Linked DNA regions of Homo sapiens. The protein of the gene in region 1 purifies or fractionates together with the protein of each later gene. This does not show direct contact. Each region holds a gene or a part of one and is shown in the gene's direction. Other genes may lie near its edges. The genes, in order: SLC2A2, DOP1B, AGPAT4, FASTKD5, ABCC1, STX17 and DYNC2LI1.

The links.
Region 2: the proteins of SLC2A2 (region 1) and DOP1B purify together in Homo sapiens (affinity purification with mass spectrometry; one large-scale study listed by BioGRID and IntAct). This does not show direct contact.
Region 3: the proteins of SLC2A2 (region 1) and AGPAT4 purify together in Homo sapiens (affinity purification with mass spectrometry; one large-scale study listed by BioGRID and IntAct). This does not show direct contact.
Region 4: the proteins of SLC2A2 (region 1) and FASTKD5 purify together in Homo sapiens (affinity purification with mass spectrometry; one large-scale study listed by BioGRID and IntAct). This does not show direct contact.
Region 5: the proteins of SLC2A2 (region 1) and ABCC1 purify together in Homo sapiens (affinity purification with mass spectrometry; one large-scale study listed by BioGRID and IntAct). This does not show direct contact.
Region 6: the proteins of SLC2A2 (region 1) and STX17 purify together in Homo sapiens (affinity purification with mass spectrometry; one large-scale study listed by BioGRID and IntAct). This does not show direct contact.
Region 7: the proteins of SLC2A2 (region 1) and DYNC2LI1 purify together in Homo sapiens (affinity purification with mass spectrometry; one large-scale study listed by BioGRID and IntAct). This does not show direct contact.

The regions. Positions count from the first base shown.
Region 1 is NC_000003.12:171,023,578-171,028,581, reverse strand, and holds the start of SLC2A2 (solute carrier family 2, facilitated glucose transporter member 2), read left to right. Parts: upstream 1-1,861; 5' UTR 1,862-1,911; coding exon 1,912-1,926; intron 1,927-5,004.
Region 2 is NC_000021.9:36,229,379-36,233,637, forward strand, and holds part of DOP1B (protein DOP1B), read left to right. Parts: intron 1-1,071; coding exon 1,072-1,756; intron 1,757-3,425; coding exon 3,426-3,697; intron 3,698-4,259.
Region 3 is NC_000006.12:161,134,366-161,138,624, reverse strand, and holds part of AGPAT4 (1-acyl-sn-glycerol-3-phosphate acyltransferase delta), read left to right. Parts: intron 1-1,990; coding exon 1,991-2,085; 3' UTR 2,086-4,259. UniProt on the Homo sapiens protein: Converts 1-acyl-sn-glycerol-3-phosphate (lysophosphatidic acid or LPA) into 1,2-diacyl-sn-glycerol-3-phosphate (phosphatidic acid or PA) by incorporating an acyl moiety at the sn-2 position of the glycerol backbone.
Region 4 is NC_000020.11:3,145,676-3,150,281, reverse strand, and holds the end of FASTKD5 (FAST kinase domain-containing protein 5, mitochondrial), read left to right. Parts: intron 1-1,021; 5' UTR 1,022-1,211; coding exon 1,212-3,506; 3' UTR 3,507-3,763; downstream 3,764-4,606. UniProt on the Homo sapiens protein: Plays an important role in the processing of non-canonical mitochondrial mRNA precursors.
Region 5 is NC_000016.10:16,043,073-16,047,331, forward strand, and holds part of ABCC1 (multidrug resistance-associated protein 1), read left to right. Parts: intron 1-1,377; coding exon 1,378-1,608; intron 1,609-2,763; coding exon 2,764-2,941; intron 2,942-4,259.
Region 6 is NC_000009.12:99,944,120-99,948,378, forward strand, and holds part of STX17 (syntaxin-17), read left to right. Parts: intron 1-4,259. UniProt on the Homo sapiens protein: SNAREs, soluble N-ethylmaleimide-sensitive factor-attachment protein receptors, are essential proteins for fusion of cellular membranes.
Region 7 is NC_000002.12:43,807,631-43,811,125, forward strand, and holds the end of DYNC2LI1 (cytoplasmic dynein 2 light intermediate chain 1), read left to right. Parts: intron 1-2,074; coding exon 2,075-2,137; 3' UTR 2,138-2,380; downstream 2,381-3,495. UniProt on the Homo sapiens protein: Acts as one of several non-catalytic accessory components of the cytoplasmic dynein 2 complex (dynein-2 complex), a motor protein complex that drives the movement of cargos along microtubules within cilia and flagella in concert with the intraflagellar transport (IFT) system, facilitating the assembly of these organelles.

The DNA.
Region 1 (5,004 bases):
AGATTACTCATTCATTTCTGAGAAAGAGCAGAACCACAGAGGCCTTGGCTGAACCTGAGGAAACTGATCAGGGTGCCCCGAAGGCCCGCTAGTGAATGGCGGGTCGCGCTCCCAATGGGAGAAGAGAATGGTTTCCTGCCGCCGTGCTCCGCGCCGGCAGGCCGGGGCTGAGCACAAGAAGTTAAAGGCTCACTGGCCGCCCGCGCACTCAAGGCAAATTCCGTTTCTGAAAAGGCAGGTTCAAAAGACAAAGGTTGGTAAACCACACCGGTATCATTTACGACGCGGCACAGAGACGCTTTCCTGCAGAATGTCATGTCACTGGCAAATGCCATGGAACCGCTCCTGACTGTGGACCGCTCTGGCAATGGGGCGTGCTCATCACCAGCCAAAACTGATGCGGAAAGTCAGCGTGGCTAACTGGGCGCTTTAAAGTCTGACTTCAAAGCTGCTCCCCAAAGCTTGGCACTATGACACAGAGCACCTCATGTTATGACTAAACGAGTTAATCCATGTCAAGTGCTGAGAGCAGCACCTGGCACCCGGCAAGACCTCAGTAAAGATTAACCATCATTACTATTAATATTTGCTCACGCTTTTCCACTATGAAATTATTGTATTGTGTCTGCATTACATATGTCTCATCTTATATGTTATAAACACCTAGAAAGAGGAGGCTGTGACTTATTTATCTCAGTCATCTCGGAGCATGGAACTGTGCTGGACTCAGTAAAAGTTTGTAGTTTGATTGAATTACCTTCTCAAACCAAACATTTCAGGTGTGTCACCTTGCAGAGGTGACAGAAATGAAAACAGGGTGGCAAAATAAAAAGGTGAAATCTGAATCTCCTCTAATCCTTCATTTTCTCACCCTGTTTCTTCATAACACCCCTCATTGTGTTGCTGCTTGTTACATTTTTGTTCCGCTGGGAACTGGTTCCATTTGAGCCTCAGTGCAATCTGTGGCCCCAGTTGCCACACACACTTAAAGCTCAATAAATTTGATATCTCCTGAACCCCCACAGGGTTTGGATATCATAAGGGATACTTAGGCCCAAGATCAAGCCATATGAGCAGGTTTATTTGAGAACTCTACGTTAAAGCCTCCAGCAAGTGCTTCTTGACATATATGAAGCAATAATAATAACAACCGCTATTTGCTAAGTACTTATTATATGTTGAGATATGCCAAACACTTTCACATATTATCTCATTTAATCCACTCAACAAAACAAAATGTGTGTTATTTCTATTTTATCAGGCAAAAATAAAAAACTAATCAGAGAAAAGTCACAGTGAGCCACTTGCTTAAGGTTATACTCCCCAGTAAAATGTTGAGATTCAAACCCAAGTCCCTAACAATCCAAAGCTCATCCAGGTAACCATTCAAGTCAACAATGGTCTCCGGCCACACAGCTCAGCTCTAAACAGAAACACCACAGCACTAATTATCTGTGGAGCAGAGTGCAGTGTGCCTCCCATGCTCCACAGCACAGCACGGCAGCTCAGCATATCTCATCTTCTACAAAAGACTCCAAAGATTTCTCTTTTCACCAGCTCCCAATTACTGCCACATAACACATGCCTTGAAATGTGATTGCCTCTGGTTTGTAACTTATGCCTAAGGGACCTGCTCCCATTTTCTTTCCTAGTGGAACAAAGGTATTGAAGCCACAGGTTGCTGAGGCAAAGCACTTATTGATTAGATTCCCATCAATATTCAGCTGCCGCTGAGAAGATTAGACTTGGACTCTCAGGTCTGGGTAGCCCAACTCCTCCCTCTCCTTGCTCCTCCTCCTGCAATGCATAACTAGGCCTAGGCAGAGCTGCGAATAAACAGGCAGGAGCTAGTCAGGTGCATGTGCCACACTCACACAAGACCTGGAATTGACAGGACTCCCAACTAGTACAATGACAGAAGATAAGGTAAAGCAGCATTATATTCATTTCAAGTCTGGTTTTCAGGAGATAGTTAGGGGAATACAGTCAAGTCATACAGAGGATTTGGGGGAGGTTGGGTGTAGCTACCACAGATCAAAATTAATTCTCTTTACTTTGCCAATTGAAGAACTGTTTCTTATTCAGTAATTGGGGTTTTAAGGATTTTTGCTCTGTTAACTGACTAGTCTGCATAAGTTTTTTCAAGTAATTGTGCATAACCATATTACTAAAGAAATATGTCCCCTCCTAACCAAAAAAAAAAAAAAAAAAAAGGGGGCAGATTGACCTAAATTTAATCATGAAAACTCATCGGGAATCTTCAAAAACGTCAATGCAGGAGAGACAAAAGAGGTAGAAGGGTTGTTCTCTAGATTAAAAGGGATTAAGACAAACTGACAACCAAATGCAACAAATGATTTAGATTGTGGAAGGAAGAAAAAAATAGCAATAAGGGAACTATGGAGACGTTGGGAAATTTTAAATATGGGCTGCATCTTAAATAATATTACTGTATCAATTTCACACTCTTGGATATAATAATGGTATCTAATTATGTAGGAGGATGTCTTTGTTCTTTGTACATGCTAAAGTATTTAGGGGTGAAATGACACAAATATCTACAGCTTATTTGTAAATGGTTCAGCCAAAACAACACACACACACAAACACTACAGAGCGAGAGATCAACAAATTGGTGAATGTTAACCAGTGGTGAATAAAGGCGAAGGTTATGGAATGATCACTTCACTACTGTTTCAACTTCTCTCTAGATATGATACTTTAAAAAAAAACTTAAAAATATAAAGGATATAGTGTCCTTGCTCCCTTATACGTGGTTTCTAAACTCACCCACCCCTGTACACACAATCATATAAGTTGATCAATCTGTGCCCTGTAGGGTCTCACCTTTAAGTTCTCATCTGGTGCAACTTACTCTGCTGAACATTCCTTCATGTCATTAGATGGCATGGTTAGCTGCACTGGCTTTGGAGTCAGCCAGACTTGGATCTGGGTTCTAGCAATGCCACTAAACTGCTGTGAGGCCTGGGTTAAGTTATTTAACTGAGCTTTGGGTTTTCTCTATTGTGAGAAAACAAAAACATATTAGGATACAATATACCCTTTATAGGCAAAGAAACTTGGGCTCAGTGATATAATATGGGATATTCAGGGATTATACTAGTACTTTAGAGTTAGGGAGTAATTAAATGAGATTATATTAGAGAGGCTTAGACAACAATTTTAATGTTAATAGTTATATAATTATTAATAGTGTTAAATACATATTTAAATAGTATTTATAAATTATAAAAGATAAATTATATTATAATGTATAAACACTTTAAATACATATTATATAAGCACCATTTATATGTTTGATATTTAAAGTTAAATATAAAATGCTATTTATATAGCATTTATATAGTATGTATTTAAAGAATAATTAGCACATCATGATTTCATGAGTATTATAGCCCAGGATAAAGCTAAAGTAGTTAGAACTTTAAGGTCAATATAAAGACAAACATTAAGTTAACAACTACATAGATGGTATGTAGATTTGGCAAAATTCATGAAGGTAGTAATCAAATAACTAAAGTTTGAAAGCTACTGCAAAAAGGAAGGTAATGTGCTTAACATAGTGTCTGGCACATCGCAGATGTTCAAGATTCATTCAAAACTATCATTAATTTTCTTAGGGGCTTTTGAAATTACGTTGTAGATCTTTTCTTGATAACCAAGGAACTGCCTAACAATGGAACCCAGAAAGAATGAGAACTGAGGTAGTGCAATGTTTTTCAGCTTTGTGAATCTATCCAGACTTTGAAAGAAGTAGGATAAGCAAGGAACTGGGGTCAAGAGACCTGAGTTGTCACACTGAATATGCCCAAAATGCTCACAGAAATCAGACAAATGACATAAACAACTTGGCCTGTGAGACCTCAGTTTCTACAACTGAAGAATGGAGGAATTAGACAAGAATCCATTGTTCTCTAAGGTCTCTTTCAACTTAAAAATTCTGTGACTTGATAAGCCCCTGGCTTTTTCCAAAGTTGCATGCAAGATCACCTTTGGTTTAGGTTTTGGAGACATGTAGTTTAAAGAAAAGGGTATAAGCTTCTCCTCCCTACCTAGTCAATCAGTAATTGCTGGAAAAATCTGCTCTTCAGGTTAGCAGTGGCGTTTAAGACCATCAGCTCTCGGTTCCCACACTAGAGTATCTGTCACCAGCTGTGTAGTGTTAGGTATGCTCCTTAATCCTCTCTGATCCCTGGCTTCCTCACCTCTAAAATAGGAATAATTTCATGTACTTTGTGGTATTGCAAAGAGTATCGGTAAAGTATGAAAAGTTGACACATGGCTGTTTGACAAAAGAAATGAATGAGATGATAAAGACATGATTAAAGATGCATTTGTTCTGTAGCCCTTTTACTGTTTATAGGAAGACCACATTATTTATCTTAGTTTTTACAGTAATCCTATGCATTAACTAGTTTTATACCCATTTTATAGGCAAAGAAACTTAGGCTCAGTGACGTTAGGAGCCTAGCTGGGACTCTTTTGGAGCTTTTCTGACTCCCACATCTATTTGTTTTTTTCTAATAGACCCTATATGACTTATGAGCCACAATATAAACACTACATTGTTTTATGTTGAAGTTCAGCCATTTGCTTATTCTACCCTTCCACATTTATCCAGCAGCATATTTTAAATTGGATATGAAATCTAGTTTCTCTAACTTAAAGTTATTAAGCTCCTAATGAAGGTAGCATTTTTTAAAGTGCAAGCTGAACACCTTATAGCCTATGAGGAAGTTAGGAGAAAAGGCTTGAAGATCTTCTGCACTTACTAGGTTATGTGGACTTTGGACAAGCTGTTTACTCTTTCCATGTGAGCTCCCCCATATGTGAAATGATAATAATAATTCCTACCTACTGGGTTGTTGAGAAAACAGGCAAACCATCTAGAACCTCAGAACTTGGACAGGTTAAGATCCTCTCTAATTTCTTGCTATTTTCAGTAGCACTTATGTACTTCTTCTTGTGTCAACTTCTTGGACA
Region 2 (4,259 bases), on another chromosome or scaffold:
ATTCCTCGGCTTGTCCAGGCATCAGCCCAGTCTCGGCCTTTATGTTCACTTGGCTGTCAACCTGTGTGCATGTCTGTCTCTGTGTCCAGATCTCTCCTTTTTATAAATCCAGTCCTACTGGATTTGGGCCCACTCTAATGATCTCATCTTAATTGGATCATCTGCAGAGACTCTATTTTCAAATTAAGGTCACATTCACAGGTATTGGGAGTTAGGACTTCAACCTATTTTTGGGGGACACCGTTCAACCCATAACGTACACTATTCTCTGACTTGCTTTACCTTTTTTTTTTTTTTTTTTGAGACAGAGTCTCTCTCTGTCGCCCAGGCTGGAGTGCAGTGGCATGATTTTGGCTCACTGCAACCTCCACCTCATGGGTTCAAGCGATTCTCATGCCTCAGCCTCCCAAGTAGCTGGGATTACAGGCACCCACCACCATGCCTGGCTAATTTTTTGTATTTTTAGTAGAGATGGGGTTTCACCATGTTGGCCATGCTGGTCTTGAGCTCCTGACCTCAGGAGATCCACCCACCTCATCCTCCCAAAGTGCTGGGATTACAGGCATGAGCCACCACACCTGGCCTTATTTTATTTCTTCATACCTTTATTTTACCCTCAGCTCAGTTTCCTCATTCATATTTGTTAATTTGTCGGAAACAGTTCTCGCTCTGTTGTCCAGAGAATTGTGGCAGGTGATCCGCCCGCCTCAGCCTCCCTAAGTGCTGGGATTACAGGCTTGAGCCACCACGCCTGGCAGAAACAATTCTTAAACAACTTTTTTGAACTCTAAAGGGGTTATATATTTAGACAAAAACACAAGAAAAATAGGCCCAAAAGCCAGCCTCCCCAGAGAGCATGTGGGTGTACCAGCCTCCTCTTTGCTACCCACCGCTCTCCTTCTCCTGCTTTGGGTGCCTCCTAAATTTCATTATACACTTAACACAGGGATTCTCTAGTCTGGAGAGTGATGATTTTGAAAAACAGAATTGAAATACATTCATGATTTCAACTGATACTTAAATAGCTTGGTGTTAAGAGATGCACAATTCACATCTTTTTATTTTTTACAGAGTCCAGTAAAAGGTGAAAACGGCAAAATAATTTTGGAAACAAAGGCAGTGATTCCCGGTGACGAAGATGCTTCGTTTCCCCCTCTGAAGTCTGAGGACAGTGGGATCGGGCTCAGTGCCTCGTCACCGGAGCTCTCTGAGCACTTGAGGGTTCCTCGAGTTTCTCTGGAAAGGGACGACGTTTGGAAGAAGGGCGGGAGCATGCAGAGGACGTTTCTTTGCATCCAAGAGCTAATCGCCAACTTTGCCAGCAAGAACATTTTTGGAGTACAGCTGACAGCGTCAGGAGAAGAAAGCAAGTCCGAGGAGCCTGCAGGGAAGAGGGACAGGGATGGGACGCAGAGCCTGGCAGCCAATGATTCCAGCAGGAAGAACTCTTGGGAGCCCAAGCCCATCACTGTGCCTCAGTTCAAGCAGATGCTGTCAGACTTGTTCACAGCACGAGGGTCTCCATTCAAGACAAAAAGTTCAGAGTCACCATCGTCTTCGCCCAGCAGCCCTGCCAGGAAAAACGGGGGAGAATGGGATGTTGAGAAGGTGGTCATTGACCTGGGGGGTTCCAGGGAGGAACGCAGGGAGGCCTTTGCCGCCGCCTGCCACCTGCTGCTGGATTGTGCCACTTTCCCTGTCTACCTGTCCGAGGAAGAGACCGAGCAGCTCTGTGCAACGCTCTTCCAGCTGCCAGGTGAGAGGCAGCCCTGCCGAAGTCCCTCTTTGGGAATCATACGATGAGGCGATTGACGTGGGTGGAATATCCCCTATCCACAATGCTAGGGACCAAATGTATTTTGGATTTCGGACTTTTTTCAGATTTTTGGAATATTTGCCTTACACTTACCGATTCAGCATTCCTAATCCAGAAATCCAAAATCCAAGAGCTCCAGTGACTGTTTCCTTCGAGCATCATGTCAGTGCTAATAAGGTTTCAGGTTTTGGATTTGGAATTTTCAGATTAGAGATTCTCAACCTATATTTAAAGACTAGCTCAAATTGTGTAAGCCAAGAAGGTGCTATTGGCCTCATTTGTTCCCTTCCTCATTTGTAATTAGTACATTTTTGACTTGTGTCTCACCACATGGCAAAGTGGTAAGGGTGGGGCCTATGTTTTTAAACCCTGGGTGTCCAGCACAGCCCATCAGAAGACCTAGAACATGAGTGGCATTCAGTGATAGTAAATAGACTATTTCATGATGCCTGTTGATAAAGTTTTTTTTGTGTTGGGTTTTTTTGTTTTTTTTTTTTTTTTGAGACAGGGTCTGGCTCTGTTGCCCAGGCTGGAGTGTGGTGACACCAACTCAGCTCACTGCAACCTCCGCCTCCTGGGTTCAAGTGATTCTTCTGCCTCAGCTTCCCCAGTAGCTGGGACTACAGGCACGTGCCACTACGCCCAGCTAATTTTTTTTTTTTTTTTTTTTGAGACAGCGTCTTGCTCTGTCGCCAGGCTGGAGTGCAGTGGCGCGATCTTGGCTCACTACAGCCTCCGCCTCCCGGGTTCAAGTGATTCTCCTACCTCAGCCTCCCAAGTATCTGGGGTTACAGGCACACGCCACCACACCCAGCTAATTTTTGTATTTTTAGTAGAGACAGGGTTTCACCATGTTGGCCAGGATGGTCTCAATCTTTTGACCTCGCGATCCACCCGCCTAGGCCTCCCAAAGTGCTGGGGTTACAGGCGTGAGCCACTGCACCTGGCCCCCTAATTTTCATATTTTTAGTAGAGATGGGGTTTCACCATGTTGGCCAGGCTGGTCTCAAACTCCTGGCCTCATATGATCTGCCCGCCTTGGCCTCCCAAAGTGCTGGGATTACAGGCATGAGCCACCGTGCCTGGCCAATATTTTATATATTGGTTTGCTAGGGCTCCTCTAACAAAGTACCATAAACTGAGAAATTTGTCTCATAGTTCTGGAAGCCAGAAGTCCAAGATCAAGGTGTCAGCAGAGCCATACTCCTCCTCTGAGACCCTGGATGGAATACTTTTTGGCCTCTTCAGCTTCTGGTGCTGGCCGGCAACCCTTGGAGGGCTCCTCACCTTGCAGCTGCATCAGTCCCGTCTCTGCCTTTGTCTTCACAGGGTGTCCTCTGTATGTCCTGTCTTCCCTTGACATGTCCCTCTTACAAGGACACCAGTCATATTGGATTAGGGCCCACCCTAACAACCTCATCTTAATTTGATTACCTCTGTAAGGACCTTATTTCCAAATAAGTCTCACCAGCGGGAGGTTAGCGCACTGCTGTCCAGGTGGATTTCTCAGGTAACTTCCCAGATCTAGGGTGCTGTAGAATCTGCAGACTGGGGACCCATTCTCACGTGGTTCTGCTTGTTTCTGCCTCTCCGGCTGGCTTCCTTTCAGGAGCCGGTGATTCCAGTTTTCCATCTTGGCTGAAGTCCCTCATGACTATTTGCTGCTGTGTGACTGACTGCTACCTCCAGAACGTGGCCATTTCCACTCTGCTGGAAGTGATAAACCATTCCCAGTCCCTGGCGCTTGTCATTGAAGACAAGATGAAACGCTATAAGAGCTCTGGACACAACCCTTTTTTTGGCAAGCTGCAGATGGTGACGGTTCCTCCCATTGCTCCAGGGATATTGAAAGTCATTGCAGAGAAAACAGATTTCTATCAGGTATTTCCCACTGGGAACACTCTTCTTATGGCCTCCTTCTCCCCCTGAGCAAAACTCAGAACCGTATTGCTGGGGATGGGGGCAGTGGCCCACTTCTCTGAGAGTGATATTCTATAGGGCACTGGGCAGAGGCAGTAGCCTTTGGTCTTCCTCTCCCAGCATGTAACTTTCACCCTCCAGGAAAGCTACAGTGAGAGCAACTGGGGCCCCAGTATTCTGGGCCTGCCAGGACTGAGTGGAACCCCTGCCTGGGAGTGGGGTCTGGGTGGAGGCAGGGAGCCCATGACTCCTCCACTGCACTCACCTGGATTTAGCCTCTGCCACATCCAGCAGAGGGGTGGGAAGGTGACGTGCTGGTGGCCTGCCCCTCCCAGGAGGTGCAAAAGCCCTTGACTGGGAGCTGGGGAAAGAGAGCACCCTTTTGCTTGGCCACATGCACCAGAGTGGATAGTGACGTTTCCATGGAGCTAAGCTGGGGAAGGAAGGAGATGATGAGCAGGTCATGGCTCAAGTGCCATGACTCTTGCTGCTTTGACCGAAATGTCGTAGGTTTTCCGGAATA
Region 3 (4,259 bases), on another chromosome or scaffold:
AGATGCAGTATGCTCACTATAAAAGGCCCAAGCAATAGACAAGCGCAGAAAATGGAAAGTGTGTCAGGAGACCATTCCCATTGAGCCCACTTCCCAGATAATCGTTAATGACAATTTGATGCACGTGGTGGTTCCAGTCTCAAGCATATGTGCATCTATAAACCCGTATCAGTGGAGTTTCTTCAGCTCGCCTTTTCACCTAATGAATCATAACCACCAAAACAGGTCACAGCACATAAACCTAGCTCATTCATTCTGACTGAGCCAACCAATGCTGCAGCATATGGGTGCAGTAGACAAGCTGGCTCCTGTTCCTCAAATAGACCCTACTATACAGTCTTTTGAAAGATTAAGATGTATTTTAGTGTTAAAAATTAAAATATTAAAACAACACCCACACCGTGTAAGGGAAAAAAATAAGAGGTTGGAGAAGAAAGCACCTCATCTCCTTAAGGCAGGTCCAGGGGCACCCCCATGCCCCGCCATGCTGAGGCTGGCCAAGGGTCCGGGGCAGCTGCAGGTGCCAGGGCCCCTGGTAGGGCGGGGGCAAGCTCAACCCTTCTGCTTCAATAGCAGGCAACAGCAAGGCACACACACACCCACGCCGTCTTGGAGAGGGGCCCCTTCAGGATGAAGGCTGCAGACAGGGCCACCCAGCTGTGTAGCGAGTACCAAAAAAAGAAGCCTGAGCACTGCCCAGGGTGCAGTGTGGACACAGGGCGTCTCCAGGAGCATCTGAGGGGTGCAGTATGGACACAGGGAGTCTTCAGGAGCATCTGAGGGGTGCAGTGTGGACACAGGGAGTCTTCAGGAGCATCTGAGGGGTGCAGTGTGGACACAGGGAGTCTTCAGGAGCATCTGAGGGGTGCAGTGTGGACACGGCGTCTCCAGGAGCATCTGAGGAGCTGACTGCCGTGCCCCATTACTCTGAGCCTGCGCCTGACTGCATTCTTCCCTGAAGGACTTTGTGTTTGTGTTCTTTACTCCTCTTCCAAGGCCACACGGTCCACGTTTTACTCACTTCTTTCTGCTCTACAATAACTCCACTCTCACTGTTACTGTTACGCTCCATGCAGGAGCCCTCCAGTTTGTAAATGACCCATGGGAGATGCGTGCCTCCTGCTGGCTGGGCTGGATTCGCCCATCCCAGGCTCTTGCATCCATGTCCCAGTTAGTTTATCGACCGCGATGCTAATGCTAGATAATCCTGTGCATCATGATTTGGGGGATTTCATTCACTTATTCGTCTATCCATTCTTAAGCATGTATTATAAATGGACTGTTTTCCAAGCCCCATGCCCAGTGCTGAGCACATCAAATGATTAAGTCTTGGGCCCTGCACCCAAGGACCTCACCACATCTGCCCGCTCCAGAGGGTGTAGTTGAAATTGCAACTTCTGAGCATTAGGCCCTGCTTTCCAGCTTCCTATATTAAACTGGGCTCCCACGAGGGTCCTGCCCATTCTCTGGTGTAGGCAAATCCTGCCGTCAGAGGAGAGGGCGGGGATTTTCTCACTGCTCTAACGCTTGCACCAAAAGCAGTGCTGAAACGTGTTGGGCACTCGATACTCGAGCTCTTGCGTCTTCCAGGCTCCTGGTCTGTTCTTTATAAAACTTCGCTGAACATGCCCTGTTAACTTCCTGTCCCTTATTCACAAAAGAATCCTCTTTACCTGGGGGTCAGCAGAGGAAGCCAGGGATTTCTCTGAGTCCCTGCGAACGGCTGTGCATGGCTTGCCAAATCATTCACCTTCAGGGTCCAAGGAGGAAAACCCCCACCAGAGCAGCCTTGCTTTGTCTTAATGTCACATGGATGTCCACACTCAAGGATGATTGTAAAGCCGGCAGGATGATGGCACCTCAAACCCGCCAGCCAGCTCTGAGCTGGCGCTTGTGATTTGCGGCCACGGGCCTTCTCACTTGCTCTGTGGGAAAACGGCCCTGTAGTCTGTTTGGGCTACTCCTAACTCTGCTCTCCTTGTCTCTGCAGCCTCCGTGGGAGTTCGATGGATGATTGGTGTGACGGAAATTGACAAGGGCTCTGCCTACGGCAACTCTGACAGCAAGCAGAAACTGAATGACTGACTCAGGGAGGTGTCACCATCCGAAGGGAACCTTGGGGAACTGGTGGCCTCTGCATATCCTCCTTAGTGGGACACGGTGACAAAGGCTGGGTGAGCCCCTGCTGGGCACGGCGGAAGTCACGACCTCTCCAGCCAGGGAGTCTGGTCTCAAGGCCGGATGGGGAGGAAGATGTTTTGTAATCTTTTTTTCCCCATGTGCTTTAGTGGGCTTTGGTTTTCTTTTTGTGCGAGTGTGTGTGAGAATGGCTGTGTGGTGAGTGTGAACTTTGTTCTGTGATCATAGAAAGGGTATTTTAGGCTGCAGGGGAGGGCAGGGCTGGGGACCGAAGGGGACAAGTTCCCCTTTCATCCTTTGGTGCTGAGTTTTCTGTAACCCTTGGTTGCCAGAGATAAAGTGAAAAGTGCTTTAGGTGAGATGACTAAATTATGCCTCCAAGAAAAAAAAATTAAAGTGCTTTTCTGGGTCATCTGTGGTGTATGTTGACATGGACCGCTGCCCCTCCATCCTGCCCTTGCCCGTGGCTTTGGTGTTTCAGATCCTACTCACGGGAGGCAGCTGCCGCGGAGGTGTGGGCAGCTGAGAGGGGTGGGCAGGCCAGCACAGCTCCTGGCAGGAGACACAGGTCCAGGAGCCCGTGAGCATTTGTGAGAGCAGAGATGGCAAGCACGTGCGTGGAGACCAACGAAGCGTGTCCCTGGCACACAGCAAGGGAGAGTTTCGCTCGGTCTCTGCAGTGCAGTCTCCTGGCGTAAGTCTTGAAGATGGACCCAACTCCCTGAAGAAATGGATCTTGAAATTGAACACAAACATCATGAACGTACAGCCTGGGCATTCTGCAGTGATTTGTGAGATGAGCTTGCATCGACTGTTCCTCTCAGCAGTGACAGCCAAAGTCACCCCTGATAAAATGCAGTTTCACTTTATAAAATGCCTCGCCCCTTCCCAGCATGTAGAGCTTGTCTGCAGCCCTAAAGGAGCCAGGTCCTGCTCTGATGAGGGTCAAATCAGAGCCGACATCCCATGTACAAAAAACCCCCAGGCTTCTGCCTTCCTTCCGGGCTCCTGTCTGCTCCCATTTTACTCCACGGAATAGTTCTGCCCTGTAGCATCTCCAGCGGCCTTTGCAGACTGCTGTCAGCCAACAGGTGCCAAAAATGCAAAAGAAGAAGAAACTAAAAGCAGTGCTATTTTTGCAGAACAAATGCTAGCTATTAAATCATCTTAGGCCAAGACACCAATGGCACTTGGACCGATAGGTATTTGGAGCATGAGTTAGGAAGGATATGTCTTTCTCCAGGTGCGCAGCTGAAAGTTGCTGAGAAAAGCTGCCTGTGTTGCTGTGGTAACATGAGAAGGAATGAACAGCTCTATACAAAAACTGGCCACACATTATAAGGCCTATTCTATGCAGTTATGTTTTTGGCTATTTGCTCATTTAGTCATTGTTTATCAACCAAACTAGGTAAGCCAAGGAGTTACAAGACAGCTCTAGAGAAGCTCCCTCTGCTTACAGGACAATAATGCATTGTTTGTTTGTTGATACAAATGAATTATTTGAATCCACAGAAGTGAAAAAGGGAAAAAATCCTGGCTGACTTGTGGGAAGAGCGTACTGCAGAGCCTAGGGCCTGAGTTAACTCGCTGGCGGCCCTGCAGGCAGGCTTGATGGGAGCGCCCAGCACATCTGCCCACCCTGCACAGGGCATGAAGCACCGTGTGCAGAGATCTGTGGGCAAAAGCCCAGGACGTGACCTTAGGCAAGAGGGGTCCTTGGAGAAGTGGAGGTGTGCATGGTGTGTAGCCTTGCGTGTCTGTGAGCACGCCCTAGTGGACCTGCGCCTGGATTATCGGGCCAGTCTCTCGGAGGGGTCCGTGATGCTGAGTTACGCCATTCACCTGAACTCTGCAGCTCATCGGCTGTAGGATTTGGGTGAGACACTTTTCCTTGCTGACTCATTTCCCCATCTGCAAAATGGGGGTGACGATATCTACCTCTTGGGGTGTGTCAAGGGTAAAAGAGCACACTTTAAGAATCCTAAAGCACTAAGCCAAGGATGAAAGACTAGAAAGCTGCCTCTATGTTGCTACTCTCAAAAATGCTCAGAAATTTTCTTGTCGTACTAAAAATGTGTTATTTTTCTCATTTTCATTCTTCCATTCAACACAGAAGTAAT
Region 4 (4,606 bases), on another chromosome or scaffold:
GAGCAGACCCTCAACCTTCTGCTTTCTCCCACCAAAATGAGTGAGTTTTTTAGTATACTTTCTAATAACACCATTACTCTGTGACTACTCTCTAATAGTGACTCAAATTCTGTTATAAGCTTCCTGAAGAGGAGAGTAGGCATCTTCTAAAAAGTAAAAGAACAGCATTAGAATGACAGAATTTTGGAATTAACAGTTTTGCGCTATAAGAACAGGGAGGGTTATCGTAGGTATAACTAATTAAATCTTTTTTTTTTTTTTTTGAGATGGAGTCTCACTTTTTCGCCTAGGCTGGAGTGCAGTGGCACGGTCTTGGCTCACCGCAACCTCTGCCTCCTGGGTTCAAGGGATTCTCCTGCCTCAGCCTCCTGAGTAGCTGGGATTACAGGTGTGTGCTGCCACACCTGGGTAATTTTTTGTATTTTTAATAGAGACGGGATTTCGCCTTGTTGGCCAGGCTGGTCTTGAACTCCTGACCTCAAGTGATCTGCCTGCCTCGGCCTCCCAAAGTGCTGGCATTACAGGCATGAGCCACCCACACCCAGCCAACTAATTATCTTTTATACCAGATCCCACTTTTTACTTAGTGCTGTTAGCATAGCAGTTTTTATAAACATTCTTCAGGTAGGACCTGTTTGCCTTGATATCAAAGAGATGGAAGGAGTTGCTCACTTTTGTTCCCAGCCTTCTTTCTAGAAATCTGCCTTCCTTCTTCCTATCAAATGTTAGCGGAGCACCGTCTCTTCTTTAGCCGTCACTGCTTGCCTTGTACAGTGAAGGAAGTCTGGTGAGCAGCAGTCCAGGAACTGCCCACGGGTACCCTGGGTTGGGGGTTTTCCTAGGCCTTTACACAGACCGCAGAATTTATCCTTGATATATGCTGTCATGTGGTTTGGGCATTTACTAGCATTGAACTTATTTGAGTAGACAGCAGTGTAGTTTCAACCTGTTTTTTATAATGTGTAAATTTGGATGCTTTTATAGGTAGAAGCCACTCATTCTTCATCTACCCTTTTTTCAGTATCTGGCACCAATTCTGACCCAGTCATTTGTGATCCCTGGCTCTTGTGATATGCTGAAGATTTCCAGGCAGTTTTTGTGGAACACCTCCCCGTCCAGCTCTAATCAAGCACCATATAAACAAGAAATTGCCTGGTCAAATCTGTGAGGACTGTATTCTGACTGCCAAAGAGATCAATACTGACACCAGAATGGCAGCTACTCTCAAGTCATTAAAACTTGTAAGATACCGAGCATTTTGCAGTCCTTCTGCCTTTGGTGCAGTCCGAAGTGTGTCATACTGGAATGTGAGCAGCACACAGCATGGGGGACAGGACCCTCCAGAACACATTAGCCTCTGCCATTCTGCCAAAAAAGTTAAGAACATATGTAGCACCTTCTCTTCTCGGAGAATCCTGACAACCAGCAGTGCCCACCCAGGTTTGGAATTCAGCAAGACTTCTTCCTCTAAGGCCAGTACATTGCAGCTGGGCTCACCCAGGGCCACAGGAGTTGATGAAGAGGACGTAGAAGTGTTTGATTCCTTTGAAAACATGCGAGTTTTCCTACAGCTAAGACCAGAATACCGTGTTCACAGCTATAATGCATCTGAGACTTCTCAGCTCCTGTCTGTTTCAGAAGGTGAACTAATTTTGCACAAAGTCAGAGTTAATCAAAATAATCTCCAGGCTCAAGTCATTGTTGATTATTTGTGTAAGCTGAGCTCTTTGCCTGCAGAGCAGCATCCTGTCTTGCTGGGCAGTACCAGCTTTGCTCTGCTCTGCCAGCTGAGTGTGAAGAAGATACAGCTCTTTGATACCCAAGATCTGATCAATGTTTTGAAAGCTTTTGTCATTTTAGGAATCCCTCACTCCCATTCAATGCTAGATGTGTATGAGACCAAGTGTTGCCATCAGGTATGGGAGATGAATATGGATCAGCTCCTTTTGGTGGCTGATCTCTGGAGGTACTTAGGCCGCAAAGTACCTAGGTTTTTAAACATTTTTTCTAGTTATCTTAATTTGCACTGGAAGGATCTATCCTTGTCTCAGCTAGTTCACTTAATTTATGTTATAGGTGAAAATCGTCAGGTATCCCAGGACCTAATGCAAAAATTGGAATCATTGATCCTTAAATATATAGATTTGATCAATTTGGAGGAGGTTGGTACCATCTGTTTGGGGTTCTTTAAATCAAGTACTAATCTCTCTGAATTTGTCATGCGGAAAATTGGAGACTTGGCTTGTGCTAACATTCAGCATCTGAGTAGTCGCTCCTTAGTGAATATTGTTAAAATGTTCCGTTTCACTCACGTGGATCACATCAATTTCATGAAGCAGATTGGAGAGATAGCTCCTCAGCGAATTCCTTCCCTGGGAGTTCAAGGTGTCATGCACCTGACTCTTTACTGCTCGGCCTTACGCTTCCTGAATGAAGGAGTAATGAATGCAGTGGCTGCGTCTTTGCCTCCTAGAGTGGCACACTGTCGAAGTAAAGATGTTGCCAAGATTCTGTGGTCATTTGGAACTCTGAATTATAAGCCACCCAATGCAGAAGAATTTTACTCCAGCCTGATAAGTGAGATTCACAGAAAGATGCCTGAATTCAACCAGTACCCAGAACACCTGCCCACCTGCCTGCTGGGCCTGGCATTTTTGGAGTACTTTCCAGTAGAGTTAATTGATTTCGCTCTCAGTCCAGGGTTTGTCAGGTTAGCTCAGGAGAGAACTAAGTTTGACCTCCTTAAGGAACTATATACCCTCGATGGTACAGTTGGCATTGAGTGTCCAGATTACAGAGGCAATCGTCTTAGTACTCACCTTCAGCAAGAGGGGTCTGAATTGCTGTGGTATTTAGCAGAGAAGGATATGAATTCAAAGCCTGAATTCTTAGAAACTGTCTTTTTACTGGAGACCATGCTGGGGGGGCCCCAGTACGTCAAGCACCATATGATTTTGCCTCATACCCGATCTTCTGACTTAGAGGTCCAGCTTGATGTTAACCTGAAGCCATTACCATTTAATAGAGAAGCCACGCCGGCTGAAAATGTAGCCAAATTAAGGCTTGAGCATGTGGGAGTCAGCCTTACAGATGATTTGATGAATAAGTTACTAAAAGGGAAAGCAAGAGGACATTTCCAGGGCAAAACTGAGTCAGAGCCTGGGCAGCAGCCCATGGAGTTGGAGAATAAGGCAGCTGTACCTCTGGGGGGCTTCCTTTGCAATGTAGCAGATAAATCAGGGGCCATGGAGATGGCTGGCCTGTGCCCCGCAGCCTGCATGCAGACCCCAAGAATGAAGCTGGCTGTTCAGTTCACAAACAGGAACCAGTATTGCTATGGCTCCAGGGATCTCCTTGGACTGCACAATATGAAGAGGCGGCAGCTGGCTCGGCTTGGCTACCGTGTGGTAGAGTTATCCTACTGGGAATGGCTCCCACTACTGAAACGAACTCGCTTAGAAAAGTTGGCGTTTCTTCATGAGAAAGTATTCACCTCTGCTCTCTGAAGGGCATTTAGGGGCATTTCTATGGCAAAGCTATAGGTGTATACTGTACCAGGTGTTGCAAAATGATTATAAAAGCCAGAATGTAAGTTTGGCGATAAAATAGTGTGTTGAGGAGACTTAATTGTATCCAAGGCAGGTTAGAGCTAGTGTATGTTACTGTGAATTGTAATGTAGTTGGATTGTACAAATTACTGCAAATGTATACATGTTACTCTTAGTAAATAATAAACATCTTAATATGTCCTACGGTCAAGTAAGTCCTTGTTGGATTTTTCTTTCTGTTTACCAGCCTTATGTCACAGAGTTTTTAGAATAAAAGTATAGTCAGACATTATATAAAGCCAATTTTTAAAAATTTTATTCTTTTCTGGAGACCCTCCCCCCACCCTTACAGATTTTTTTTTTTTTTAAAGCCAGTTTTTTTGTTTGTTTTTTGAGATGGAGTCTCGCTCTGTCACCCAGGCTGGAATGCAGTGGCACAATCTCAGCTCACTGCAACCTCCGCCTCCCAGATTCAAACAATTCTCCTGCCTCATCCTCCCGAGTAGCTGAGACTACAGGCGCGTATCACTACACCTGGATAATTTTTGTCTTTTTAGCAGAAACGGGGTTTCTCCATGTTGACCAGGCTGGTCTTGAACTCCTGACTTCCGGTGATCCGCCTGCCTTGGCCTCCCAAATGCTGGGATTACAGGTGTGAGCCACCGCGTCTGGCCTTTTTTTTTTTTTTGAGACGGAGTCTCCCTCGGTTGCCCAGGTTGGAGAGCAATGGCGCGATCTTGGCTCACTGCAAGCTCTGCCTCCCAGGTTCAGGCAGTTCTCCTGCCTCAGCCACCTGAGTAGCTGGGGTTACAGGCGCCCACCACCACGCCCAGCTAATTTTTGCATTTTTATTTGAGATGGGGTTTCACCATGTTGTTCAGGCTGGTCTCACACTCCTGACCTCAGATGATCCACTCACCTTGGCCTCCCAAAGTGCTGGGATTACAGGCATGAGCCACTGTGGCTGGCCTATACCTTGTTTTAAAATAAGAATCTCATGCTGGATGTGGTGGCTCATGCCTGTTATCTCAGCCTTTAGGAGGCCAAAGTGGGAAGAT
Region 5 (4,259 bases), on another chromosome or scaffold:
GGGTGTTCTCAAACTCCTGACCTCAAGTGATCCACCCGCCTCGACCTCCCGAAGTGCTGGCATTACAGGCATGAACCACTGCACCCAGTCAAAAAAAAAATTTTTTTTTAGAAATAGGGTCTTGCTGTGTTGCTCTGGCTGGCTGGACTGTTTTTTTTTTTTTTTTTTTTTCCACTGATGTATATATGCCTATCCCTTTACCTGTCTTGATGATTGTTGTTCTTTTTTTTGTTTTGTTTTTTTCTTTTTGAGACTGAGTCTTTTTGCCCAGGCTGGAGTGCAATGGTGTGGTCTCAGCTCACCACAACCTCCGCCTCCTGGGTTTAAGCGATTCTCCTGCCTCAGCCTCCCAAGTAGCTGGGATTATAGGTATGTGCCACCATGCCGGGCTGATTTTGTATTTTTAGTAGAGATGAGGTTTCTCCATGTTTGGTCAGGCTGGTCTTGAACCTGCCGACCTCAGGTGATCTGCCCACCTCGGCCTCCCATAGTGCTGGGATTACAGGCGTGAGCCACTGCGCCCAGCCTATTGTTGTTCTTTCTTTTTGAGATGGAGTTTTGCTCTGTCACCCAGGCTGGAGTGCAATGGCCTGATCTCCACTCACAGCAACCTCCACCTCCCAGGTTCAAGTAATTCTCCTGCCTCAGCCTCCCAAGTAGCTGGGATTACAGGCACCTGCCATCATGCCCGGCTAATTTTTGTATTTTTAGTAGAGATGGGGTTTCACTATGTTGGTCAGGCTGGTCTCAAACTCCTGACCCCAAGTGATCCAGCCACCTTGGCCTCCCAAAGTGCTGGGATTACAGGTGTGAACCACCACTCCTGGCCATGATTGTTATTTTGTATTGTTTTGAAATCAGGAAGTGTGAATCCTCCAACTTGATTCTTATTTTTCATGATTGTTTTGACTGTTCTGGATCCTTGAGTTTCCATGTGAATTTTAAAGTTAGCTCATAATTTCTACCTGGCAGCCAGCTGGGCTTTTGATGGGGATTGCCTTGACTCTAGATCAGTTTGGAGCCATCAGTTTTCTAAGTCTTTAACTTATTCAACTCGTTTAATCTTACCTACCTTGGAGGTAGGTCCTACTTTTATCCTCATTTCACAGAGGAGGAAACTGAGGCCCAGAGAGCTTAAGGACCTTGTCTGAAGTCACGCAGCTGGCCAGTGGCCAAGCCAGACCTTGAGCCGGTGGCTCTGGAGCCCGTGGCTCTGGAGCCCGTGTTTGTAACCACTGTGCTGAGCTGCCTCTTTCCCTGGGCTTGTTGTCTTTGACTCTGCCTTCCCTGAAGGGTGACATTCCCTGGCCATGTCCCTGTGGTAGGGGGCTGCATCTCTGGCAGACCCCACAACGGCTTCACCTCCTTGTGTTCCAGGCAGCCGGTGAAGGTTGTGTACTCCTCCAAGGATCCTGCCCAGCCGAAAGAGAGTTCCAAGGTGGATGCGAATGAGGAGGTGGAGGCTTTGATCGTCAAGTCCCCACAGAAGGAGTGGAACCCCTCTCTGTTTAAGGTGTTATACAAGACCTTTGGGCCCTACTTCCTCATGAGCTTCTTCTTCAAGGCCATCCACGACCTGATGATGTTTTCCGGGCCGCAGATCTTAAAGTAAGACCCCTTCCCTCCCAGGTGGGCTCCATTTTCCCTCCTTGGCTTTGATCTTTCAGTTGCATCAGTCATAACCCTGGGGTCATGCTGTGTCCTGAAGTGGGCTCATAGCCAGATGTCTCCATTTTTACTTTAGCTTTTTTGAAAAAAATAGAGACAGGGTCTTGCTTTGTTGGTCAGGCTGGTCTCGAGCTCCTGACTTCAAGCGATCCTCCTGCCTCGGCCTCCCAAAGTGCTGGGATTGCAGATGTGAGCCATGGTCACTGCCTAGCTTTACTTTATGCTTTACTTAATTACCATATTAGTGAAGACCACATCGTTTGCAAGTAACAGAAACCCACTAGGCTCCCCTAAAACCCAAATGGGGAGGATATGGCATTGTCTTGGGAAACCAAGAGCAAGGAAATGCCAGCAGATCTCATGAAAAAACTGCAACCAGGGTTGGGCGCAGTGGCTCATGCCTATAATCCCAGCACTTTGAGAGGCTGAGGTGGGAAGATCACCTGAGGTCAGGAGGTCAAGACCAGCCTGGCCAGCATGGTAAAACCATCTGCTAAAAATACAAAAATTAGCCGGGCGTGGTGGTGCACGCCTGTAATCCCAGCTACTCAGGAGGCTGAGGCATAAAAATTGCTTGAACCCAGGAGGCAGAGGTTACAGCAAGCTGATTGCATCACTGAACTCAAACCTTGGCGACAGAGCAAGACTTTGTCTCAAAAAAAAAAAAAAAAAAAAAAAGAATAAAAACAACAACAAAAAACTGCAACCAGGAACTGGGGAGTCAGAAAGGAAGTTGCCTCTCTCCTACCTGGCTCTCTGCTGCTCTGTGACTCAGGGGCTACACATCCCTTCTCTTTTCCTCCCTACCTCTTTACCTCGTGTTCCCTATGCAATTCCTTTGGGTGACTTGCTGGTGATGAGATATAGCTAGAGCAATTAGTGCACAACCCCAAGGCAGAGGCCTCTTTTATGAGCAGTTTGGGTCACCTGCACAGCCAGATCACCACTGTGGACTTGTTTTTCCATCTATGAAATTGAAGTGATAGTGTCTAGCTCATCTGGCTCAGGAGAAAGTTGCAGTGCCAACACTGAAGCTCTCTTCCCTGCCCCCACGTGTCACAAGTCATTCCAGGCCCTCTCTTTGCTCCTTTGCAGGTTGCTCATCAAGTTCGTGAATGACACGAAGGCCCCAGACTGGCAGGGCTACTTCTACACCGTGCTGCTGTTTGTCACTGCCTGCCTGCAGACCCTCGTGCTGCACCAGTACTTCCACATCTGCTTCGTCAGTGGCATGAGGATCAAGACCGCTGTCATTGGGGCTGTCTATCGGAAGGTAGGGGACGCTGTGCCATTGGCATGTGGCCCGACTTCCACATCCCCTCCTGCAGCCCTGGGTTACTCTGGGGCCAGCGTGGGGATTTCCAGCCCAGCTTCTGGAGCAGTAGGATGAGGGTAGCTTCCGTGACCTTAGGTGGCAGGGACAGCACGCATCAGGCATTGTACGTTAGGAAAGCTGATTTCAAGGGTGGGCGTGTAGATGTCTTTGTGTATCAGCTGTGAGTAATTGAGTTTCTTAGATGGATCAGTGGCCCTTGTTGTGGGGAAATCCAAGTTTGGATCCTCATTCTGCTGTTAACATTCTGTGTTTCAGCTTGTTGTCACTCTTTTTTTTTCGTTTTTTTGAGACCAGGTCTCACTCTCTCCCCCAGACTGGAGTGCAGTGGCATGATATTGGCTCACTGCAACTTCTGCCTCCTGAGTTCAAGCGATTCTTCTGCCTCAGCCTCCTGAGTAGCGGGGACTACAGGCGCCTGCCACCACGACCGGCTAATTTTTGTATTTTTAGTAGAGACAGGGTTTCGCCATGTTGGCCAGGCTGATCTTGAACTGCTGACCTCAGGTGATCCGCCTGCCTCAGCCTCCCAAAGTGCTGGGATTACAGGCATGAGCCACCGCGCCCAGCCTGTTGTCACTCTTAATTTGAACTGAGCAGGTGGCACATTCCTTGCATGGTAAGAGTATGTAGCAGGCATTTGTGTACATCCAATTTCAAAGGACCTAAATTACCTTCTTGATCCCTATAAATTTTTTTTTTTTTTTGTCTCGAGGTCAAGGAAACTGCTTGGCTCCTAGGTTAGGAAGAGACAGTCTTGCAGGTACTTGATGAACTAGAGGAGTGATTCTCAGGCCTGTCTGTGAATTAGACTCACCTGGGGAGCTTAAACTGATGCAGGCCAGGCACTGTAGCTCATGCCTGTAATCCCAGCAGCTTGGGAGACCAAGGTGGGGGAATCACTGGAGGCTTGGAAGTTCAATACCAGCCTGGTCAATATAGCAAGACCCTGGCTCTGCAGAAAATTTAAAAAAATTAGCCAGGTATGGTGGTGCGTACCTGTAGTCCCGTCTACTCAGGAGATTGAGTTAAAAGAATCACTTCAGCCCCGGAGTTGGAGGCTGCAGTGAGTCCTGATAGCATCCCTGCATTCCGGCCTGTGTGACAGAATGAGACCCTGTCTGAAAAAACAAAAAAACTTCCTGACACCTAGGTTGCACCAGACCAGTGAAATTGCGATTGCTGTGGTGGCACCCAGGTGTCATTGTTTTTGTTTTTTATTTATTTTTATGTTTTGAGACAGGGTCTCGCTCTGTCA
Region 6 (4,259 bases), on another chromosome or scaffold:
TTTTTTAATTCTGCAAGATCAGTAGTAATGCCGTTTTTCATTTCTGATTTTGGTTATTTATGCCTTCTCTATTTTTTAAAATTATTTGTCAATGAGGTTTATCAATTTTATTAGTCTTCCCAAAAATCTAGTTTTGGCTTGGTTAATCTATTGTATTATGTTTGTTTTTCTGTTTCATCAAATTTATTTTTACATTTTTATTATTTTCTCCTTTCTACTTTTTTTGCAATTGTTTTTACTATTTTCTAGTTTCTTGCAATGGATTTTCAGTCTACTAATTTTCAACCTTTTTTCTTTTCTAATATATATATATGCAGTTACAGCTATAAATTTGTATTGCTTTGGCTGCCTGTAGGTTTAAATATGCATTATTTTTCTTTTCATTCAGGTCAAAGCATTTTTTTTTTTTTTTAAGTTGGAGTTTCACTCTTGTTGCCCAGGCTGGAGTGCAATGGTGCAATCTTGGCTCACTGCAACCTCCGCCTCTTGGGTTCAAAAGATTCTCCTGCCTCAGCCTCCCGAGTAGCTGGGATTACAGGTGCCCACCACCACACCCGGCTAATTTTTTGTATTTTTAGTAGAGATGGGGTTTCGCCATGTTTGTCAGGCTGGTCTCAAACTCCTGACCTCAGATGATCCACCCTCCTCAGCCTCCCAAAGTGTTAGGATTACAGGCATGAGCCACTGCGCCCAGCCAGCATTTTTTATTTCTATTGTGATTTCTTTGACTTGTGGGTTATTTAGAAATATGTCTTTCTTCATTATTGGTCATGAAATGTTTATAGATATATTTTATTAATGATTTCAAGTTTAATTTTATTATGATCAGAGTATATGGTCTGTATGATATCAGTGTCAATATTTTTGAAATTTGTCAAAACTTCCTTTAAGACTTAGTGTATAATCAATTTTTATAATTGTTCTCCATGTGTATTTGTGTGTTTTTGACATGTGTATTCTCACCTTGTTTGGTATAATGTTCTATATAATTTATATCTAGTTTGTGTTAAACTTATTGTTCAAATCCTCTATATTAACTTAACATCCTTTTGTCCATTTGTTCTGTTAATTACTTAAAGGTGTTAAAGCTTTCCCTTATGATTGTGGATTTGTTTCAATTTTTCTTTATAGTTCTTGTCCGGTTTTGCATTATATGTATTGTGGGTATGTTATTAGGTGTACTTAACTTAGGTATTATTATATATTCCTGGTACAGATATTATAAAGTGATTCTCTTTATTTTTAGCAATGTTTTGGCTTTAAAGTCTGTTTTTTCTAATATTGCCGCAGCAGGTTTTCTTTGGAGAGGAGGTGTTAGGGTTAAAGTGGTTTATCTTTTTCATCTTCTTACATTGAACCATTCTTTTCTTTATGTTTTAGATACAATCGCTTAAGTTTTTTAAAATTCAGTCTATAAATCTTTATCCTGTAACTGGAATATTTATTTCATTTTTATTTAATGTAATTATCGATATATTTAGGTTTAAATCTTTCACCTTATTGTGTGCTATTTCTTAAACATATTTTTTAAATCTCCATATTTACTTTCTTTTGTATTGATCTTGTTTTTTTTAATTTATCTAATTTTTTCCTTTCTAGTTTAGGAACTACATTTGAGCCTTCTCCAAGGATTTCATCAACTGTGGAACAAAAATTTTTTTTTTTTAAATGGACAGTTGCGGCCGGGCGCGGTGGCTTACGCCTGTAATCCCAGCACTTTGGGAGGCTGAGGTGGGTGGATCACCTGAGGTCAGGAGTTCGAGACCAACCTGGCTAACATAGTGAAACCCCATCTCTACTAAAATACAAAAAAATTAGATGGGCGTGGTGGCTGGCGCCTGTAATCCCAGCTACTCGGGAGGCTGAGGCAGGCGAATCGCTTAAACCTGGGAGGCGGAGGTTGCAGTGAGCCAAAATCGTGCCACTGCACTCCAGCCTGGGCGATAGAGCAAGACTCCATCTCAAAAACAAAAACAAAAACAAAAACAAAAAGAATGGATAGTTGCATCTGTACTGACTCTTTTGCTTGTCACTGTTCTCTATAAAAGTACAGTATAACAATTTATATAGTATTTATATTATATTAGGTATTATAAGTAATCTAGCGATAAAGTATACAGGAGGATATTCATAGGTTTTACACAAATACTACACCATTTTATGTAAGGCTTTGAACATCTATGGATTTTGGGTATTTGCAGGGAGTCCTGGAACCAATCCTCCATGGATACCAAGGAATAAATGTATATACTTTTACTAGAAATTACAACGTACATCTTTAACTTAGAAGTACAGATAATATCAGTTCCTTAGACTATTTTAGTTCCATGTATGCCCTGCAACTTAAATGCTACTTTTATATAAATATTTCTAAACACCACAGACATTAGTATTATTGTTTTAGTAGAGTTACTGGTCATCTAGATTTACCCACTTTTTAGCATATTTTCATTTCTGTTCATTTCTTTTTGCATTTCCAACTTTTTATCTGGGATTAATTGTTATTTTTGAAGATCACCATTTAATATTTCTCTTACTGTGTGTTATTGACTGAAGGCAAATTCTCTCAGCTTTTGTTTGTCTAAAAATATTTTTATTTTACCTGTGGTCTTGAAAGATATTTTTGCAGCATATAGAACTTTAGGTTGATAGTAATTTGCTTTCTATACTTTGAATATTTTGTTCCATTGTCTTTAGGCTTTCGTTATTGCTGTTGAGAAGTCGTATTATAATCTTACTGTTTCTTTGCAAGAAACTCTTGTCTCTAGCTGCTTTTAGACATCTTTTCTCCTTCTTTTTCTCTCTTCTGGCTAGGTGTATTTTTCCTTTTATTTATTCTTCTCAGGATTTGTTGACCTTGAATTGTGGATGGATGTTTTTCTTCAATGTTTTGAAAATTCTCAGTCATTATCTATTCAAATTCATTTTCCGTCTTCTTCTGGAATTCTAAGTAAATGTATATTGTACCCTTTTCTAACTATATCTTCTGTATTTCTTAACTTTTCTTCTATATTTTTTACTTTCCTTGTTTCTTTTTTACATAGTTTCTTCAGATCTGTTTTCCAATTTATATCTTTCTTGAACTGGGCCTAATATGAAGCTAAACTCAATTATTAAATTCTTGTGGACATTATTTTAAAATTATAGAATATTCATTAAAAAACCTATATGTTGCTTTTTATAGTTTCCAATTGTCTGCTAAATTTTCAAGCTTTATTTTTATGCCTTTGAACAAAATAACTATAGTTTTGTAGACTACATTTGCTCATTCCCTCATTACATGTCCTTTTGGATGTTTCTGTTGCCTGTTGTTTTTGCTGTTTCTTCCTCATGCTGCATATGTCCTCATGTGCTTGGTAATCTTTGATTGGTGGACATTGTATTTGAAACATTATTTATAGAAATTATTTGAAGCTAGGGATGATGTTATCTTCCTCCAGATATTTTCATTTGCTCTTCTAAGCCGCTGGGGGCACTAACTTTCCAAGATTATCTTTATCCAATTTTAGAGCTTAAGGTTTTCTGTGAGCTACTCGAGACTGGAGGCCAGTCTGTAGTTCATGCAAGGGCTGCTTTATTTTAGGATTACCTGTGTTCCTAGGGTGGAGCTCTGACGATCCCAGCCAAAAGTACCAGAGTCCTTATACTTAGCAGGTCTTGGCATTGAAATTTTAATCCAAGCTTTGTGAGTTTATATTCTGGTATGCAAATACTCCCAAAGCAAATGTGGTCCTGAGTTCAGGACTCACCTCTCTAGATTTCCATCTTTGCCCAATTCTTGTCCTATAGTTACTTACTATCTTGTTTGCTTTATGGTACTTTTCAAGTTTTTTTTTTTTTTCCTATTGGTTTGTTTTGTGATTTGATTTTTGTTCAACTTTTGAAGTAGCCATTAGTGGGAAGGTTAGTCTGAATCACCTAGCCTGCTGTTTTCAGAAGCAGAAACACCTGACTTTATGTTCTTCATATATGGTTTTACCATCCTGTTCCCTCTGTTTGATTTTAGAGAGATTCCCTAGTTGCCCTATCCAATGTAGTAGCTCCTAACTACATGTGACTGTTGAGCACTTAAAATGTAGCCAGTTTGAACTGAGATGTGCTGTGAATGTAAAATATATACCAGATTTCTAAGACTTACTACAAATAAAACAATGTAAAAGATTTTAAGTTTTATAATTGCATATTAAAATAGTATTTTAGCTATATTAGGTTAAATAAAATATTATTAAAATTAATTTCCCTTGTTTTTACTTTTTTAA
Region 7 (3,495 bases), on another chromosome or scaffold:
CTGGTCTTCAACTCCTCGCCTAAAGCAATCCTCCTGAGTTGGCCTCCCAAAGTGCTGGGATTACAGGCATGAGCCACTGTGCCCAGCTTCTTTTCTATTATTTTTGTTAAAGCAAAAAAAAAAAAAAAAAAAAAAAAAAAAAAGGTTACAGTTAACATTTATTTTTAAGGTCTTCTTGGCCAACCACAGTTATCTTCGGAAAACTTTACTTGCTATCCCTTTAAAACATCAATGCATTATTTTGAGGCCGTATCATTGTCATGTTGAAGATCTAGTGGACTTGGTGGTTTTTGTCTCATATTGGTTATTCCTTTTTCTCCCTCTGGCATGGCCTGTGTGATAGCCCTAGTTTTCTCACAGTCTGCTGTCTGCAAAAGGGAGATACTACCAGCAAAGAATCTCAAAACAACATTTTCACCTTTGTCATTGGTAAAAATAATTTAACTTCCAGTTAAAGACAAAGTTTGCAGTAAACAATTTGTTTATTCTTTATGAGTTAATCTTTAAAACCGCAAGTGGTAGATAACTGGTGAACTGAATTAGCTTTATTAGAAAAAAATAAAACAAGCTGTAAAGACTACATATGATTATTACCATGAAAATTCTTCCTAGAATCCAATGAGGAAGTTAAAGGAAAAAAAAAAACACACAAGGAAAAATTCTTCCTAAGTCTATATACCATTTTGAAACATTTAACATTTAAATTTTAGTAACTTAGGGTATAGGTATGAAAGGTACGCTCTGCAATTTTTCTGAAAATTAGAATGGATTTTCTTTTCATAGCAACTGTGAACTTCAGTTATGTTAGCCAAAGGGCATTGATTGCCTCATCTTGCAGAGTAACCACGTTTTATTTGAAGTAGTGACAACCTTTGTACAGTTATTTAGACATTGAACAACATGTAGGAGGCCAAGAGGCATCCCCTTAGATGGTCCCTTTTACATGTCAGTTGCCTTGTGCAGGATAGCCACCTCCACTAAAATTTATTTATGAATTGTAAAGGTAAGATATACTCCTTGTGAAAAAATTCAAGAGCTATAGATAGATGTATATAAAATAGAAAATGGAAGTATCCTGCCCTCTCCCTATCTGTGTGCTTTTTTCATGTGGCACACATTATGTTTTCATGTGGCCACTGTTATTTTTGCTGGCTGCCTTGGAAGCCACCTGTGAATGAACGCTAATTATTTAATCAGTCCTTACTGGGGGACATCAAAGTTGTTTCCAGTTGTGCTGAGACAGAGCAATGGGTTTCCTTCTTTTACATCCTTGTGCATTGCTCTATTGTTATGGATGATAAATTTCTAAAAGTAAAATCACTGGGACAAAGGATACACACACACACACACACACACACACACACACACACTTTTTTGTGACAGGATCTCACTCTGTCACCCAGGCTGGAGTGCAGTGGCGCAATCACAGTTTACTGCAGCCTTGGCCTCCCAGGTTCAAGCGATCCTCCCACCTCAGACTCCCAAGTAGCTGGGACCACAGCGCACACCACCATGCCTGGATAATTATTTTTCTCAGTTTTTGTAGAGACACGGTCTCCCTATGTTGCCCAGGCTGGTCTCAAATTCCTGGGCTCAAGCAATTCTCCTGCCCCAGCCTCCCAAAGTGCTGGGACTATAGGAATGAGCCACCGCACCCAGCCTGGGTATGTATTTTTTAAATATTTTGCTAACTTCAACCAAGTTTTTGATTAGAGCTGAACAGCAAACAATTAAAATAAGATCACTTTTGAATACTTGAAGGATGACAGATGTCTAGTTCATTAGTTGAAAGACAATTCATATGTATTATGTAGTTTATGTACATAATTTTGTCTGAAAGTTTAATAAATTCATCTCTGAGTGCTGCTTAGCCACACAGAAACTCTGAAGACAGTATTTCTAGAAAATAAGTCCTAAGCATAATCATTTACAAAATAATTGGCAAGAAATATTTAGAATGATAATGCTACTAAGGATTCATTGATATATCTAAAAAATGAGAAGGCAGTTTTAAGGTGCCTCCTTGAATTAGTAAAGTTGATTTTTCTTAAAGTGATACATATTTTTGTTTTAGGAACTGGAACAGTACAAAAGAAGTTCTTCCAAGTCTTGGAAACAAATCGAGCTTGATTCTTGAACCTATTTCAATTATTGTATATTTATTTCTTCTTTTCCAAATACAAATAAGATTATACTGTGAATTAACTATTGTGGCAATATGTGAAGAAAGTTAAACTGTATAATTTGTTAAAGGACAAGCTGGATTTCTTGGACTAGTGCATCTCCCTGTATATCTTGAAGCTTTTTAAAAGGAAAAATTATTGTAGAACCACGTGTAATTTTTTTTAAAATAAAAGAATCTTCTACTACCTACCTCTAACATGTTTAAGTGGTATATACTCAATTCAGCATGTATAAGTTTCTGCTTATATGTTTTTAGGAATATAAAAGTAAGAGTATTTGGTTACAGTTTTAAATGCAAGGTTAAGTGCCCACGTTAGACACATTCTTTCTAAAAGGCATTCTCAGCTGTAGCTGGGAGGAAACCGGAATTGGGTTCACAGATGTCAAAATTTTACTCTTAACAGTGAGGCGCAAGAAGCACCTGAAATAGGAGATGCACATTCCCAGGTCCCCACACCTAGAGTGTCGCCATCAGTGGTCTGGAATGGGGCATTTTTAATCAGCACCAATTTCACCCTGCTGTGAGACTGACACATTTATTTTAAATACCACTTTTTGAAGAACAGGCACATCTAAGGAGATATCCTATCAAGAAGCAGGACAAAACATCATGTGTTGCGGATAACCAGGATTATTTCCAAGGTGGGATAGCCTTTAAGAAGCCATTCCAATCTGTAGATGTGTGTACCTGCTAGCCAAGTTCATTTTGAGTAAGTATAATTGCTATGATTAAAAATGATTTATTCTATGTTCTTCCATGTCCACATACAAAATATATTGACTCCCAGCTTCAGATAAGCACATTTACTACCCCAAGGGAGTACTGTCTGAGCAGATAGCAAGCCATCTGCTTATTGCAATGAACTAGGACTTCATAAATTATTTGCAGTACGTATGGTTCTGACACCCTTGAGAACAGAATTTTCAGCATGTTTCCAAGGAACCTCAGTCTTTAGCACACGTTTCTTGCTGAGTGCTATGGAAAAAGAAATCCCTTTAAATTTACAGTGAACATTATGATCTCAGAAACATCACTGACTTGGTGGGAAGAAACAGCCTATTCCACAAGAGTAATAGGAATTGTTATTATGTAATTTGATTTTCTTACACATCACTGTCCATTTTTGACTTGAGACACAAACTGTCACATGTTGAAAGCCATTGTGTTTTTCTAAGGTGCTATCACTAACATTTAATAGCTTGAAGTCACGTGTGATGTCAGTTTTCCAAATGTTTCTGAGCTAGAATGAAATTCATCTGCATATGAATAGTAGAAAATGTTTCCACTTATGTTGTACACCCATATCTTTA